5 separate regions of the Homo sapiens genome follow, and regions 1, 2, 3 and 5 are each reported to be linked to region 4. The links are microRNA targets in miRTarBase. Many come from high-throughput screens and were not tested one by one. Region 4 holds a microRNA gene; each other region holds the end of a gene's coding sequence. Distances are between the middles of the regions.

Region 1 (3,134 bases), not on the chromosome of region 4:
GATCCGAAGTGAGCCATCTCTGGTTGGGATGGGGAGTGAGGCTGGTGGGGGTCCAGGTCTGAGGACATCACCTAAACAAAGGGCCACTCAGAAACTTCGCCCAGTCTTGCCTGGACATCCAGGTATGCTCTGCAGGGCAGGGAAGGCCAGGATGTCCAGAAGAAAACATAAAATGGAGGGGAGAGGGGAGGAGAAAGAAGTGTCAGACAAGTATGCGATTTCCTCCACTGTTTTAACTAGAGTTTCAAAGATGGACTTCACTGGACTATTGAATACGCACGAGAATCACCTGGCTAGAAGCTTACTGAGATCACAGGTTGGGAAATCTGACATCTAAACCATACCTGACACTGGGGAGAGGACAAGGCTTCAATTCTTTTGCTGATTTGATATAGTACCATAGGGTTGTTGAGGTAGTGGTGGGAAATGTGCTTACAGGGATTGCAGCCAGGTGGGCAAACTGCCCATTGACCTGAGATACCTTTTTTCTGTTTAAACTTCTGTTTTCAAAGCTAAATGTTAAAAAAACAAACAAACAAACAAAAAAAACCCCACAAACTTGCCTTTATTAGATACCCATCGATAACTTTTAAATGCAAACTTACACTAAAAGATCATATCATATACCAAAAACTAAAGGTCATGACACTAAAAATATACAACAAATAACCGGCTTTGGTTACAGGAAACAAAAACAGGCCCAGGATTCACAGATGTGTTTACTGAGTCTCCCTGAATTGACTGGGAGTAGGGGGCCTGGGCTCCTCTTTTGTGGATGGCGCTGAATGTCAGAGGGTTGGGGACAATGGGTGTGTTTGACCAGTCCTTCCTAAGTGCTGCGGGTGCAGCCATCTGACTCTATGAGCTCACCTAATCCATTTTGGAAGGGGGTGAGTTGCTACCACACTCTTGGTTACTTCATCCTTCTCTGGAAATTGAGTCCTAGACTTAGATGAGGGAGGATGGGCTGGTAGCAGCCTCCCCCATCCCATTCCACCCCACCCCACCCCTATGGAAAGGCTTTAGTGGCCTTGGGGTTATATGGAGCTGTGGGCAGGAAGCCCTGCACCACTCCTTCTCTTCCAGGGGAGGGAGGGAGGGAGCACAGGCAGCCCCAGTGTCTGGCCTTTCAAGGGTCTGCTGTGCCTGGTAGTTGTTTAACCCCCTCTTCATCTGACTCCACAAAGGGCTGGAGCCATCTTCAGTCTCCAGAGTTCTTGGTGATACCAGTTGTCCCTGTTCTCAGAGAAACCTTACTTCCTCTGGGTCCCCAAACCCAGCTTAATTAGTAGCAAGTAGCTTTCCTTCAAACTGTTAGTGGCCTCTGGCTCTGGCCAGCAATGGCTGGGTCAGTGCTCAAGGGGAAGTGGAGGCGAGGGGTGGGAGAATTCACACACATGGTTTATTTGGTTAAGAGAGGCAGTTGCGTTAGTTGAGGTGATCCCTTAGCAGCAACATTAGAGAAATCCAAGAGATTTATGGAGCTCAACTCAACCCAGTTCTCCACCTGGTCCGACTCAGGAGCCAGGAGCAATCCCTCTCTACGAGAGAGGCATCCAATGAAGTGCAAGCCCAAAGTGGCCAGTTCATCTCCAGCCTTGCTTCTCCTACATCCCAACTCCAAGATTGAAAGGCTTTGGTGCCTCTGTGGGATTTTCCGAGTGGAATCCATTCCCTGGCCTCAGCTGTCACCCTCTCTTTTCCAGAGACAGATCCATGTTCCAACCTCACAAACTTAACGTGCTAACACAGTACACATCTAGCGCTTTCACAAGGACAACCCCTCTCCCTTGCTGGTGTTCTTCCCAAGAAGGACAGATACTCATTTCCAAAGGAGTGTGTGGCAAGGGGCTTCCTCACTGCCCCAACCTCCCTCTCCTCTCTTCCGTCCTCCCCCATATCCCCATCAAAGTGATTGAAAAAATGTTTAATTAACTTGAGCTCAGTTTAAAAGGTTAGGAAACTGGCAGGGATCCAAATCCATGTTACACAGGTGATGTCGTTAATTTAATTTGCTTTTCGTGCAGTAATCTGGATAATTACTCAGTAGTTACTGGCAAAAACGTTTTCTTTTCACTAAAAGATGGAGTCTGGCTGTTTGACTGCATGAACCCCATTGGCTGAGCCCCAGCAAGGCCTGGGGAGCTGAAGGGGCCCAGCAACCCACAGGGCCAGCTCAAAGGACCTCCAGGAGTGGGTGGCCCTGGCCCCCATCCCTGCTTCCAGGCCTAGCAGAAGCCCAATGCTTCCCTGCCTCTATCCCCCTGGGACGGGCACAGCACGAGATCTCCTTCCAGTTTCCCACACTCTTGATTGTATTTCAAGACAGAGAAAGATGAAGGGTGGGGAAGATACAGAAAAAGAATCCAAAGAACCAAATCAAGAAAAAAAGAGAGAGAGTCAAAAAGGTGGGGGTCATGATTAAAAGCTGGAGGAAGAGATGAGAGATTAAACGACTGGATTTGCTTTTGCCCCCACCCTCCTGAAAAGGGGTCCAGAAAGAGGAGAGAGAGATGTGGATGTGATGAGACAGGGGCACGCACGTGCATGTATGACCTGTGGACATACATGTACGGACACACCGGCAGGGCAGAGACACATGGCAGAGACGGTAATACCTCAGAGTGAGATGGCAACGAAAGCACCTGCTCAATGGTATCCATTTGTAAAGGCCGTTGCAATCAAAGGTCCCTAAAATTGCACAATTGTTAAGGTCATCAGTGTGCTATACATGGGAACAGATTGTCATATTCTGGGAAAGGAAATTATCTCTAGGACTAGTTCTGTGGTTGCCAGCATGAATATGTAATTCTGAGACACCGTGCCATGAGGGGCCAGGATGACATCCTCCTCAGCTCCAAATCCCTAGTCCCCACTCCCTCCGCCCCTACCAAGCCTATCTGCTTACCCCGGGGGAAACCAAAAGCCAGATTCAGAGGCGTGGGTGGATGGTGGGAAACGGGGGTTTGTGCCCCCAGTGATGGGCATGTTGCCCTGAACCCCAGAGTGCAAAGATAAGTCTCTGTCCGCAGTCCCAACGGCTCTAGCTGGGGAGAAGAAATCCCAGTGCAGACAAACTGGGATGCTTTCTGGTTATTTCAGAAAAACATCACAGCCCACAGGTCAAAAGACCC
Region 2 (3,134 bases), not on the chromosome of region 4:
ACCTGTTTTTCTTGGACTCTTGTTGGAAATGGTAGGATCATGATTTCAGTCCTAACAGAGATGCTTGTGGAGGGACAGCCTGTCCCTTTCTTGGGGCAGCCTCAGTGGGGAGACCATAGCACTCCTAATGGAGTCACAGATAGTATTCCAAAAGGAGTTTGGTCCTGGAGTTGAGTAATTACACGCAGGGAGGGACCTCACAACAGCCAGACTGTTTCTCCTGCTCACTTAACCCTGTGTTGCCCCACACAGTATCGTGAAGAGCGCTTCCGACTGACGAGCGAGAGCACCAACCAGAGGGTCCTATGGTGGTCCATTGCTCAGACTGTCATCCTCATCCTCACTGGCATCTGGCAGATGCGTCACCTCAAGAGCTTCTTTGAGGCCAAGAAGCTGGTGTAGTGCCCTCTTTGTATGACCCTTCCTTTTTACCTCATTTATTTGGTACTTTCCCCACACAGTCCTTTATCCACCTGGATTTTTAGGGAAAAAAATGAAAAAGAATAAGTCACATTGGTTCCATGGCCACAAACCATTCAGATCAGCCACTTGCTGACCCTGGTTCTTAAGGACACATGACATTAGTCCAATCTTTCAAAATCTTGTCTTAGGGCTTGTGAGGAATCAGAACTAACCCAGGACTCAGTCCTGCTTCTTTTGCCTCGAGTGATTTTCCTCTGTTTTTCACTAAATAAGCAAATGAAAACTCTCTCCATTACCTTCTGCTTTCTCTTTGTCCACTTACGCAGTAGGTGACTGGCATGTGCCACAGAGCAGGCCCTGCCTCACTGTCTGCTGGTCAGTTCTGGGTTCACTTAATGGCTTTGTGAATGTAAATAAGGGGCAGGTCTTGGCCCTAGAGGATTGAGATGTTTTTCTAAATCTTAGAACTATTTTTGGATAAATTATATATTTTCCTTCCTAGTAGAAGTGTTACTGCCTGTAACTAGCTCAAAATACCAATGCAGTTTCTGCATTCTGGGTTTTGTTTTTCCTTTTTTTTTTTTTTTTTTTTTTTTGAGTTTTGCTCTTGTCGCCCAGGCTGGAGTGCAATGGCGTGATCTCAGCTCACTGGCAACATCTGCCTCCCGGGTTCAAATGATTCTCCTGCCTCAGTCTCCTGAGTAGCTGGGATTACAGGTGCCCGCCACCACGCTCAGCTAATTTTTGTATTTTTAGTAGAGATGGGGTTTTACCATGTTGGCCAGGCTGGTCTTAGACTCCTGACCTCAGTTGATCCACCTGCCTCAGCCTCTGCATTCAGTTTATTCACATATTTTTGGTAACTCCCATGGCAGCTCCTAGGATTTCAGCGGTCTGTGGGCCAGAAAGCAGGCACCAGGGCTGACCTCAAGGCCGTATCAGAGGGCCAAGCAGAGTTCTTTTGGATACCTGCTTTTCATCCCACAGGGCCTTAGAGTCAGAGGTAAGGTAGCAACAGAGCTAGAATGGGGCAATGCACTCTTACCCTCCTTCTCAACTTTTATTTAAGCTGTGCTAAATGTTTTCTTCAAGGGAACCAGATTTAGTTCTTTACAGAATTTTCCAGTGAAATAAAACATGTTGTAATAGCTGTGTTTGAGATGAAATAAGAGGTTGTGGGTAGAGGGGAGGCACCTAAAGGAAAAGAGGAAAGGTGCCTGGGCTACCTATGCAGATAACCTGGAGTGGACTTCACTGTGGACTCGTGGTACTAAGGCTTGGCCTGGACAGGCAGTCTAGGGGGTATGGGAATACACGGTGTGGTTGTTCAACTATTTGCAAAGGTCAACCAAATAGACCACATGTTCGCAAAGTATCATCTGAGGAAATTAAGTACCTTCTTAGCCCTCTCAGTCATAAATTTGAACAAATTTTAATACACTTCCCTCATGCCCTTCTATATAAAACTTAATACCATTAGTTCCCCATTCTTGACATTTTATTTCAGTTTTTATTATATATTTATTTGAAATATTTATTAAATTATCTGACCTACAGAACTAAATTCTTCTCCTTTTGTTATTTCTTATGTCCTATACCATATATGTACCTATTTATATATATATTTATGTATTTTTAAAATTTTTATTTATTTTATTTTTTGAGACAGTCTTGCTCTGTCGCCCAGGCTGGAGTGCAGTGGCATGATCTTGGCTCACTGCAACCTCTGCCTCCCGGGTTCAAGCAGTTCTGCCTCAACTTCTGAGTAGCTGGGATTACAGACACCCACCACTACACCCGGCTAATTTTTGTATTTTTATTTTATCTTATTCATTTATTTATTTTTGAGATGGAGTCTCACTCTGTCGCCCAGGCTGGAGTGCAGTGGTGCAATCTTGGCTCACTGCAACCTCCACCTCCTGAGTTCAAGAGATTCTCCTGCCTCAGACTCCCGAGTAGCTGGGATTATAGGCGCCCGCCACCATGCCCAGCTAATTTTTGTATTTTTAGTAGAGACAGGGTTTCACCATGTTGACCAGGCTGGTCTTGAATTCCTGACCGCAGGTGACCCGTCTCGCCTCCCAAAGTGCTGGGATTACAGGTGTGAGCTGGCCGGGCACAGGTGATGGGGTCTTGCTCTGTCCCCAAGGCTGGAGTGCAGTGGTGCCATCACAGCTCAAAGCAACCTTGAGCTCCCAGGTTCAAGTGATCCTCCTACCTTACCCTCCCAAGTAGCTGGTACTACAGGTATACTCCACTGTGCCTGGCTATTTTTACTCTTAAAAATACATGTGGGCTGGGCACGGTGGCTCACGCCTGTAATCCTAGCACTTTGGGAAGCCAAGGTGGGTGGATCCCTATAGCCCAGGAGTTCGAGACCAGCCTGGGCAACATGGCGAAATCTTGTCTCTGCAAAAAATACAAAAAATTTAGCTGGTGGCACATGCCTATAGTCCCAGCTACTTGAGAGGCTGAGGTGGAAAGATCACTTGAGCCCGGGAGGTCAAGGCTGCGGTGAGCCATGATCGTGCCACTGCACTCCAGTCTGGGCAACAGTGATCCCATCTGAAAAAAAAAAACAAAAAAAAAAATGCAATTTAGGGCCAGGTGGGGTGGCTCACGCCTATAATCCCAGCACTTTGGGAGGCCAAGGCAGGGGGATCGCCTGAGGTCAGCAGTTTGAGACCAGGCTGGCCAACATGGTGAAAACC
Region 3 (3,134 bases), not on the chromosome of region 4:
GTCTGCAAAGCTCCAGGCTGTCCCAGTGCCAGGACACTGTCATCCAGGGGCAAGCGAACGCAGTATCCTAGGCAGGTTCCCATAGCCCTGAATCTGGCTCTCTGGAAGCCTGTGCGCCTCCTCTCAGTCTTTCAAAATGGAAGGTAGTTAAAACCTCAGTCCTATTTTTCTTTTCTTTTTTTTTTTTCTTTAGAGACAGAGTCTTGCTCTGTTGCCCAGGCTGGAATGCAGTGGTACAATTACAGCTCATGGCAACTTCGACCTCCTGGGCTGAAGATCAAGTGATTCTCCCACCTCAGCCTCCTGAGTAATAGGACTACAGGTGTGTGCCTGTAGTTAATTTTTTATTTGTGCAGAGACAGGGTCTTGTTATGTTGCCCGGGCTAGTCTTGAAATCCTGGCCTTAAGCGATCCTCCCACCTCAGCCTCCTGAGTAACTAGGACTACAGGTGGGTGCCACCGCACCTCGCTAATTTTTTATTTCTGTGCAGAGACAGGGTCTTGCTATGTTGCCCAGGCTAGTCTTGAAATCCTGGCCTTAAGCGATCCTCCCACCTCAGCCTCCCAAAGTGTTGGGATTACAGGCATGAGCCACTATGCATAGGTGGCTATTTTTTGTACAAGAAAGCCAAGGCTCAGAGAAGGTAAATGTCCTGCTCAGGGTCATAGGGCAGAACTATGTCCTGGGAATGGACCTCTGATCCCTGGCCTGGTGCCCATCCAATTGAGTCAGCCAGAAACAGCATTCAGAACTCTTTTCCTGGTGCCAGCTTCTTACTGGGTCTCAGCTTCACAGTCTCTAAAATGGGTTCATTAGTAGAGGCCCTAAACAAGCCTAGGTTTGAGTTTTCTGAGGCAAAGAAATTGAGTGATGCTTCCAGTGGGAGGAGCCCCATACAGTGACCAAAGGGCCTGGCTTTCTGGACAACCAACTTCACTTTACCCAGAGGGAAACTGAAGCCAAGGAGGGAGCCAAATGGCCTTGGGGATCCAGTGATTTAAGGACGGTGAGATAAGGAGGGCCAGGCTTCCCTACCCCAGCCTGCAACATCCAGGAGAGAATCCTGCTGGTTGAGTCCTGGGGCCCACCCTGCTTCCAAACACTTCACAGAGAAAAAGCTTTTTACAAAGACATTTATTTTCCCCAAAATATACCCCCAGTTTACAAAATCCCTCCGAGTCCCACATTTAAATTAGAAGTCCTCACATCTTCCATTCCTGGGGCAGGGAGAGATGACATCCGGAAGGCATCAGAACGTCTGAAGTCTCACTCTACCAGAGGCCAGGAGCTGGCCAGAGGCAAGCCAGGAAAAGACTGCCCCAGCCCCAGAATAGCACCATGGTGGGGGTGGGGGGCAGTCCCCTCGGTGTCCCCAAAGCATTCCTGGCCCTGCCCTGCCCCAGGCTCTGCCTTTTCTGCTGCTATGAAAGGTCCAGAGGGCCTTGGTGCCTGCCCACCTGCCCACACCTGGACAGACATTTTGGACACCACCAGATTCTCTAGCCGTGGCGAGGGGCTATGTCCCTCTCTCCAGGTTTCCGCCCCAACCCCATGCTCTGGGTAAGAATTATGGGTGGGATGGGGGTGAGGTATCCAGGAAGCCTTGAGCCACAGAGGAGGTGTGGAGCAGGGAGCCAGGCAGGAGCCCCCTGCAAACCGCAGGGTGCAGTGTAGTTAGTTGTCTGTCTCCCAGCTGGATGGGGAGTCCTTGAGGGAGGAACTTTATCTTCCCACGCAGGGCCCCCAGCACCTAACACAGTGCTGACATCTGTAGTTGCTCAATAAACATCAACTGAATGGATACATGAAAAGAAAGGAACAAAGAGGTGAGAAGGCAGAGGGACAGAAGCTGACCCCCAGGGGCCCCATCACAGACCCCTGGAGAACCAGTGTGACCAGCACATGCTTCCGTGGGGAGGATGGGCAGGGGAGAGGGGCACTGCAGAGGAGGCTGGGCCAGGGGGGAACCACACGTGTTCCAGCACGTGCACCTGCAGGTCTCCATGCACAGCTGTGCATGTGGTGGGCGCAGAGTGCCCTGTCTTCACTTGGGGCAGGGAGGGAAAAGGCCAGTATTAAGGCTAGAGCAAGAGGAGGAAGGAGGGGAAAGGAAACAGCTTCTAGACTCCAGGAGATGTTGAGGCCGCACTGTCCCTGTCTGAGAAGAAAAGATTCTATGCAGGTGGAAGCAGGGCTGAACATGATCACTAGTGTATCACGGCCATTGGAGAAACAAGGCCGGGGTGACTATGCATCGTGTCTTTGGTGAAATAAGGCAGGGGGTCAGTCAGTCTGAATATTGCATCTTTTGGAGAAAAAAGGCAGCCAGATGGTCCACGCAGCACTGGAAGAAGAGGGTGGTGATGTGGTCAGTGTACTGTGTCCCTAAGAAATGTATGTACTGTGAAATAAGGCAGCAGGCAGGATGACTTAGAGAACTAAGGTTGTGGGTGGTCTGTTCATTGTGTCTATAAGAAAAAAGGCAGCAGGATGACTTGGGAATCATGTCCATTGGAGAAATAAGGCTGCACAGTGGTCTGTGTATCGCATCCTTTGGAGAAGGAGCCCACCTGTCAGAGCAGGATGCATCTGTTGGGGGCAGGGCTCACAGTGCAGCCCCATTGCAGCCAGAGGGTAGGAGCTGTAGGGAGGGGTAGCAGCTCCCTGGTCCTCATGGTCAGGCTATTTCTTGTCCATCATCTTCATTTCATGATGGGAAGAAAAAAAAGGGAAGGGAAAAGCATTAGATGCCAGAAGATCTATTTTTGGGATTATGCCAGAAGCCCAAGCACCTGGTCAGACTTCAAGTGGGGAGTGTGTGTGAGACAGCAGCCCAACGGACAGCCCCCGTGCTGACCACGGCCCTGGAGGCCCAGACACAGATGCAGGTGCCAGGCACGCCGGGGCACCTGAGGGGGACCACCTCACGCAGCCCCCTCTCAGTACCCACAGGCCCACAGCCCGATACACTTCCCTCCACTCTCCCTCTACGTGCAACACTTTTCCCTTCTCATCTCCTGTTTGTCCATCCCATCCACCCTCCAAGGCCTGGCCCAACTCCCTCGTCCAGCAGGCAGCCTTCCCAGTGTCCCCTCCACACTGGTTTCCCTGAGAGTGACACGGCAGGGGCCCT
Region 4 (3,134 bases):
ATTGTTCTTGTGGGTAGAGTCACTGTTATGCTTTAAGCTTCCCAAGTGATTCTGATGGGCAGCCAAGACTAAGAATCTATGATTTAGATAGAAGATGGGAAGCCGAGGGAGGCCATGGGAAAGCTCTGATGGTGAGTATGGGAAGAATCAACATAAAACAAGCACTCAACAAGTGTGCATCTAGTTGAAGCCTTGCTTCTCCTGCATTTGTTATCTCAGTGTGCTATTTAAAAGCAGCACAAAAAACAAGGAGTGAAGACCTTGATATCAAGGATGTGAAAGCTACTTCTAATCTTCAAACAGATATTAGGCAGGGGCTTTAAGACTTCAACTTGAGAGAAAAGCTAAGGCACCTGGTATGTGTGTGCTCAAGTGAAATATTTGTGCTGACTGAGGGCTTCAATGTCAGGCTGTCTGAAAGGACACAATATCAACAGCTTTGCTGTGCTTGTGTATGAGTCTTTAAATGAATATATCTGGTTATAGCTTATCTCTTTTCTCCATGCTCCCTCATTTCCAATTTCCAGGTAATGGAGATCATCTAGTTCGGTTTCAGCTGCTTTATTTTGCAGATGAGCAAACCCAGTGATGCCTGTGATCTAGATGGAGGCAGATTTCCTCTCTCCCCCACCCTGGTATACCATAGTCTGTTCTAATGCTGGGATCAAGGATGAAAGTGCTAATTTGGGAGTGTCCCCCACTTTCTTACTAGCTGATATGGTTTGGCTTTGTCCCTACCCAAACCTCATCTTGAATTGTGATCCCCACATGTCAAGGGAGGGAGGTGATTGGATCGTGGGGGCCCTTCCCCCATGCTGTTCTCTTCATAGTGAGGGAGTTCTTATGAGATCTGAGATTTTTAAGGCAGTTTTCCTTGCTCTTGCTCGCTTCTCCCTCTGCTGCCACCTTGTGAAGAAGGTGCCTGCTTCCCCTTCTGCCATGATTTTAAGTTTCCTGAGGCCTCCTCTGCCATGCGGAACTGTGAGTCAGTTAAACCTCTTTAGAAATTACCCATTCTCAGGGAAGTTTTTTATAGCAGTGTGAAAATGGAGTAATTCAATGACCCTTTCTTACTGACTCATTGGTCTGATTTCTTGACCAAAGCTCTGAATATTCCCATGTCATCCTGTCTAACCAGCTGTCTTATACTCTTTTTTTTTTTTTTTTTGAGATGAAGTCTCGCTCTGTCGCCCAGGCTGGGGTGCAGTGGCACGATCTCGGCTCACTGCAACCTCCACCTCCCGGGTTCATGCCATTCTCCTGCCTCAGCCTCCCGAGTAGCTGGGACTACAGGCGCCCATCACCATGCCTGGCTAATTTTTTTGTATTTTTAGTAGAGACGGGGTTTCACCACGTTATCTTATTCTTAACAGTGTCTGAGGTATTTTTTTGAAACACAATTCTTACCTTAACTGCCCCAGGCACCACGGCAGAAGAACCATGACCTTGCTGAGAGGCACTGCATGCCAAATGAGACTTAGTTTTTCCAAAGTACTTGGGAGAAGAAAAACAATAATCTATATGATGGGCTTTTGGCCTAAACCCATATCCTTTAGATGACGGAATTTGGCACAGCTCATATTCTGGTTTAAAGAAAAATGTTTTGTTATGATGTCATTTGCCTAATTAATAGCAAAAGAGGATTGAATTTTCCCTATGCAATGTCATCTAGCCTTTGAGATTTTAGAGTTAATGACTCAAATCAATTGTCCTGTCTTCTGTGAAACCTTCCTGATGCCTTCAGTTGGATAAATCTACCCTTGGTGTTCATAAGGCATTATATTGATGCCTCTGATGTTATGCAGATATATCCCTTCTTGGCTTTGTTTGCCCATTCAATGAACATTTGTTGAACACCACCTATATGCCAAGATAGTTGGAAGATGGAAGTGTGGTACACAGAGGATGTGGAAGGGAATCACAGAAGATGAGACTATGAAGGCAGGCCCTTCAAGGACTTTCTAAGTAGTACTCAGGAGTTTGACAAAGAGGAGCTAGAAGAGGTTTGTGAAGTCAGATGAGTAATATAATTAGGTTTGTATTTTATGAAGGGCAACATCTAAATATGGCTTGTCTATTCAGCAAGCACTTATTAAGTGCCTTTTGCATGGTAGACAACATGCTTGATGCTGAAGATACAAGAAAAAATTTAAAATGGTCCTTGCCCTCAAGGAGCTCACAGTCTATTGAGTTACCTTTCTGACTTTCCCACTAGATTGTGAGCTCCTGGAGGGCAGGCACTTTCGTTCATCTGAAAAAGAGCTTAAATTTCAGTGTTAATCCTAGATTACAATCCCGCCTCTATTATTTTAACTTTGTTCACATCTGTTAACTGCTCTGAAAATCAGAGCTAATACTGCCTACCTCATCAGGGAAAGATTAAACGAGAAAAGAATGAGATGTGATTGACACAGCAGGAGCTCTGTGTATGCTATTTCCTCCTCTATCTCTGTGCCTGGTACATGGTAAACATTCAGGACACTTCTGCTGCCTGCTTGGCTGGAGAGCCTGTCTATGCAGCCTCAGTGTTGGGAGGATTTGAGCCTGGGGTCGGCCTGGCACCCAGCTATGGTAGTTAGCAAATCTATCCTCAGCTCAGTCAGTGATCAAATCACTGGCTCTAGGCTGTAAACTAACAGGGCCAGAATTGGGTTCTGGACTCTGAAGCCCAGGCATGCATATTGCAAAAGTCAGAATCGAAGTCATAGGAAAATGATGAAATTTCCTTTCTGGCCAGAATGCTATTATTTCACCAAGGGCAACAAATCTTCTTGGCAGGAAAAGTTGACTTGCTTGTGCTTTGTGTAATCAATTGTATTTGCAAGTGATGGAGTCCTTCTCACAGTGGCTTAGAGGAGGTGTTAACCACTATTCTACTCTCTACTTCCATGAGATCAACTTTTTTAGATTCCACACTTGAGTGAGATCATGCAATATTTATCTTTCTGTGCCTGGCTTATTTCACTCAACATAATGTCCTCCAGGTTTGTTTGACATTTCATTGTTTTCGGAGAATTTTCACAGTTCATTATCTCACTTCACAGTTCCTAATAGTCTCTCTGAGGTCCATATGGTAAGAATTAGTACCCTTTACTATATTTGTTGAATCACAAGTGAGCGGAGGAATGGGTATA
Region 5 (3,134 bases), 80 Mb from region 4:
TCCTCTCCTTGTATGTAGTTAACTCTGTTTTTGCTACAATGTTGTGATGGGTTATCACAAATAGCAAAGTATTAAGAATTCCAGTCAGAATGTTAATTATTAAAAAGTCAAACAATAGATGCTGGCAAGGCTGTGGAGAAACAGGAATGCCTTTACACTCTTGGTGGGAATGTAAATTAGTTCAACCATTGTGGAAGACTGTGTGGCGATTCCTCAAGGATCTAGAAACAGAAATACCATTTGAACCAGCAATCCCATTACTGGGTATATACCCAAAGGATTATAAATCATTCTACTATAAAGACACATGCACATGTATGTTTATTGCACTATTTACAATAGTAAAGACATGGAACCAACCCGAATACCCATCAATGGTAGACTGGATAAAGAAAATGTGATACAAACACCATGGAATACTATGCAGCCATGAAAAGGAATGAGATCATGTCCTTTGCATGGACATGGATGAAGCTGGAAGCCATCATTATCAGCAAACTAACACAGGAACAGAAAACCAAACCACATGTTCTCACTCATAAGTGGGAGCTGAACAAGGAGAACACATGGACACAGGGAGGGGAACAACACACACCAGGGCCTGTTGCAGGGTGGGGGGCGGGGGAGGGAACCTAGAGGACGGTTCAATAGGTACAGCAAACCACCATGGCACACATATACCTATGTAACAAACCTGCATGTTCTGCACGTGTATCCCAGAACTTACTTAAAGTAAATTTTTTTTAAAAAAATAAATATAACTTAGATATCTTTTAAAAAAATTCCATTGTGAAGAAAAACTCCATTGAGATAATATTTGTCTACCATCTCTGCTTCCCCCTAGCCTTGGTTCCTTTTTAAAAATTGTGTCCTAGTGAGAGAACATGATACTTAATAACAAAACTGGATGCATCCCCAAGCTGAAGTTTTACTTTACTGAGTATGTGCCTGGGGTGTGGAGAAACAATAGCATCCTAACTTCAGGATTGGTAATATGACAACAGCAAATTTCTAAGAAAAGGTTTGGGATATAGAGATGTTTCCTGAATATAAACATTGGCTTATTAAAGGATAATTCCAAACATTTTTTACTGAAGTTTTAAAAAATTACTATTCCAGGAAAAAAAAAAAACCCTAGAAAAGTTCCATGTTAAATGTTTCATGTTGTTTTCTCATTGCGTTAAGACCGATGGTAAGAAGGAGCGACTGCTTTGGATACAGCCCGACACACATACCTGCTAGTTCACTCTGTGGCTGTGCATCCCTCTCCGCCAACCACAAAACTCAAATTTGGTTCACCTTGCTCAAAATGGTACCCTGATTTTTCAAGAGCATCCACTTTGATCTGTCTGAGCCAACCCTGACAATTGCAGTCCTCTTGCCACTAGACTGGTTCAGCATAAGCAGATAAAGAAATCTGCTCACTAGGGTATGAGGAAAATTATTCCAGAGGTCTGTTTCTGGGAAAGTGTTTCTCCATTTTAAGAAGAGACAGGTTATCGTATGGGGAGAAAATGCTCAGGACTGCTGAAGTCCTCTTACGGCGACAAGAGATTCCGACAAGAATGAACCTGGGTCCTCTGATACCACTGAGTCCCTGAATTAATCGTCAAGCTACCCATATGAGTCAGGGTTGGATCAGGGAGGCAGAATCAGAGAATGACAGAATAAAGATTTATTATAGAGCTTCAGCCTTACACAATTGTGGGTGCTGGTGGAGAAGTCTAGGCCAGGCTGTTCCCTCTGCATCTGGTTCTGGGCCTGAAGTCACTGTAGGTCGACTGTGAATGCAGCAAGGATGAAGGGAAGTCCATAAGAACAAACAGAACCCATGTCTGTCTCACGGCCTCCACTGCAATGCTGTGTGTGATCTCAGGAAAAGCTGATGCTGGTTGCCATGGAGCTGCACACACACCTGGCCAGTACTTTGCAAAGCTGAAGGAGGAGGCTGGCAGGAGCTGGAAGAGCTCTGGGTCCAGGGAGCTGTCTCTGGTCTCTTCTAGCTCCCCTTTTTGGCCTGGAGTCATATTTTCAAGCTGTCACCATGCTTGGGTCTGTACACTGACCTTATGAGTATAAAATAGCTGCTGATCAAATTAATGCAAATTTCTTTATGACCTACTCCAATCCAGAACCATGAGAGAGAGGAATTCCGGGACATGTTCCTCCAGCTGAGCCAAATCGGTACTGCACAAATCCAGCATATTACCTGTCACTGAATGTCTCGTGTGGGGTTACCTCCATGTTTAAAGCATGTACCAGCATATAGCCTACATGTGTGTTGATTAGGAGAGTTTTGCCTACATGTTCAAATTGCCTAACTATAGCTATATTTATATCACAATGCTGAGGAGATCTTATGACTTCCATTCTACCACTGCTGGCTCACAATATACATTCATAGATTTAGGGGTGAATCAAGCCAAAGTTGCCTAACTTTAGTAAAAACCATTCACCAACATGCCCTAGTCCCCATGAAGCGTGACTGGTCTAAGGACATCTTCTATGAGTCCTACCCATTAAGAGGAAATATGGACAAAGGATCAAGTATTTATTCATTTTTTAAACATCAGAATTGAAAAGGTTCTTCCATTTATTTAATCTGTCATGTGAAGCATTAGAAGGTAGTTTACTTGCATTTGAGGATCAAAAAATCCCCATTAACTGTGGAAGCAATGATATTCCCTTTAATTATTTTTCTAATTGCCTTGTTTATATGGTGTGAAAAGCAATTTAAACATGTTTTTAAAAATGTTTCCATGCAACCTAAGTTTTTGGCCATGAAACAGCACCTTCCTTGTACTTCTCCAGCTGTTGTCCTTTCAAAGCAGGGGATGCTATTCTTCTTGAACCTGAAAAACAGAATGTCAGTGTGTTCTGTGAATTTCCTGTGATTTTCACCAGTGGAACACATGTCCAGAACCAAGCTGAGTCCCTTCCAGAGGTAAGCAGGCCTTAGCCAACTCTTCATTAACTTCAAAGGGAGGCAGGGAATTGAGGCAATTATCTGCATTACAGAAAGCAGACCCTGGTAATTCACCCCAAGGGCATGCTCGGTCACTCTCAATTTTCTGCCTGCCTTGTCTTGCCAATGAAGGCAGCGCCCCCCTTTGCCAACCCCATAAGGAGAAAGA

The links. The annotated mature microRNA hsa-miR-28-5p reads AAGGAGCUCACAGUCUAUUGAG and lies in region 4 at 2,170-2,191, shown strand. An mRNA with a match to its seed (bases 2 to 7 or 8) in the 3' UTR can be bound and repressed. Matches are read on the target gene's strand: a 7mer-m8 pairs with bases 2 to 8, a 7mer-A1 pairs with bases 2 to 7 and ends in A, and an 8mer does both.
Region 1: miRTarBase lists MSI2 as a target of hsa-miR-28-5p. The part of its 3' UTR that is shown has no 7-base or 8-base seed match.
Region 2: miRTarBase lists TMED4 as a target of hsa-miR-28-5p. Seed matches in the 3' UTR shown: 8mer at 1,297-1,304.
Region 3: miRTarBase lists CD276 as a target of hsa-miR-28-5p. Seed matches in the 3' UTR shown: 8mer at 2,637-2,644 and 7mer-m8 at 1,285-1,291.
Region 5: miRTarBase lists MYH15 as a target of hsa-miR-28-5p. Seed matches in the 3' UTR shown: 7mer-m8 at 1,954-1,960.

Annotation. Positions count from the first base shown.
Region 1 is chr17:57,676,544-57,679,677 of GRCh38, reverse strand. It overlaps MSI2 (musashi RNA binding protein 2), which reads right to left. Exons shown (of 14, transcript NM_138962.4): 13 at 2,619-2,691; 14 at 1-129. The coding sequence ends at 2,650. Among named protein-coding and RNA genes, the nearest start is that of CCDC182, 67 kb to the left of the region's middle. RefSeq lists an enhancer at 2,967-3,134.
Region 2 is chr7:44,576,747-44,579,880 of GRCh38, reverse strand. It overlaps TMED4 (transmembrane p24 trafficking protein 4), which reads left to right. Exons shown (of 5, transcript NM_182547.4): 5 at 253-1,987. The coding sequence ends at 402. Among named protein-coding and RNA genes, the nearest start is that of TMED4, 3.9 kb to the left of the region's middle.
Region 3 is chr15:73,712,501-73,715,634 of GRCh38, reverse strand. CD276 (CD276 molecule) reads right to left here. Exons shown (of 10, transcript NM_001024736.2): 10 at 1,121-2,701. The coding sequence ends at 2,679. Among named protein-coding and RNA genes, the nearest start is that of CD276, 30 kb to the right of the region's middle.
Region 4 is chr3:188,686,625-188,689,758 of GRCh38, forward strand. It overlaps MIR28 (microRNA 28), which reads left to right and starts at 2,157; the gene lies at 2,157-2,242. All of the region lies in intron 7 of LPP (LIM domain containing preferred translocation partner in lipoma), which reads left to right.
Region 5 is chr3:108,378,708-108,381,841 of GRCh38, forward strand. It overlaps MYH15 (myosin heavy chain 15), which reads right to left. Exons shown (of 41, transcript NM_014981.3): 41 at 1,661-2,852. The coding sequence ends at 2,838. It overlaps LOC124900545 (a long non-coding RNA gene), which reads left to right and starts at 2,833. Exons shown (of 2, transcript XR_007095998.1): 1 at 2,833-2,944.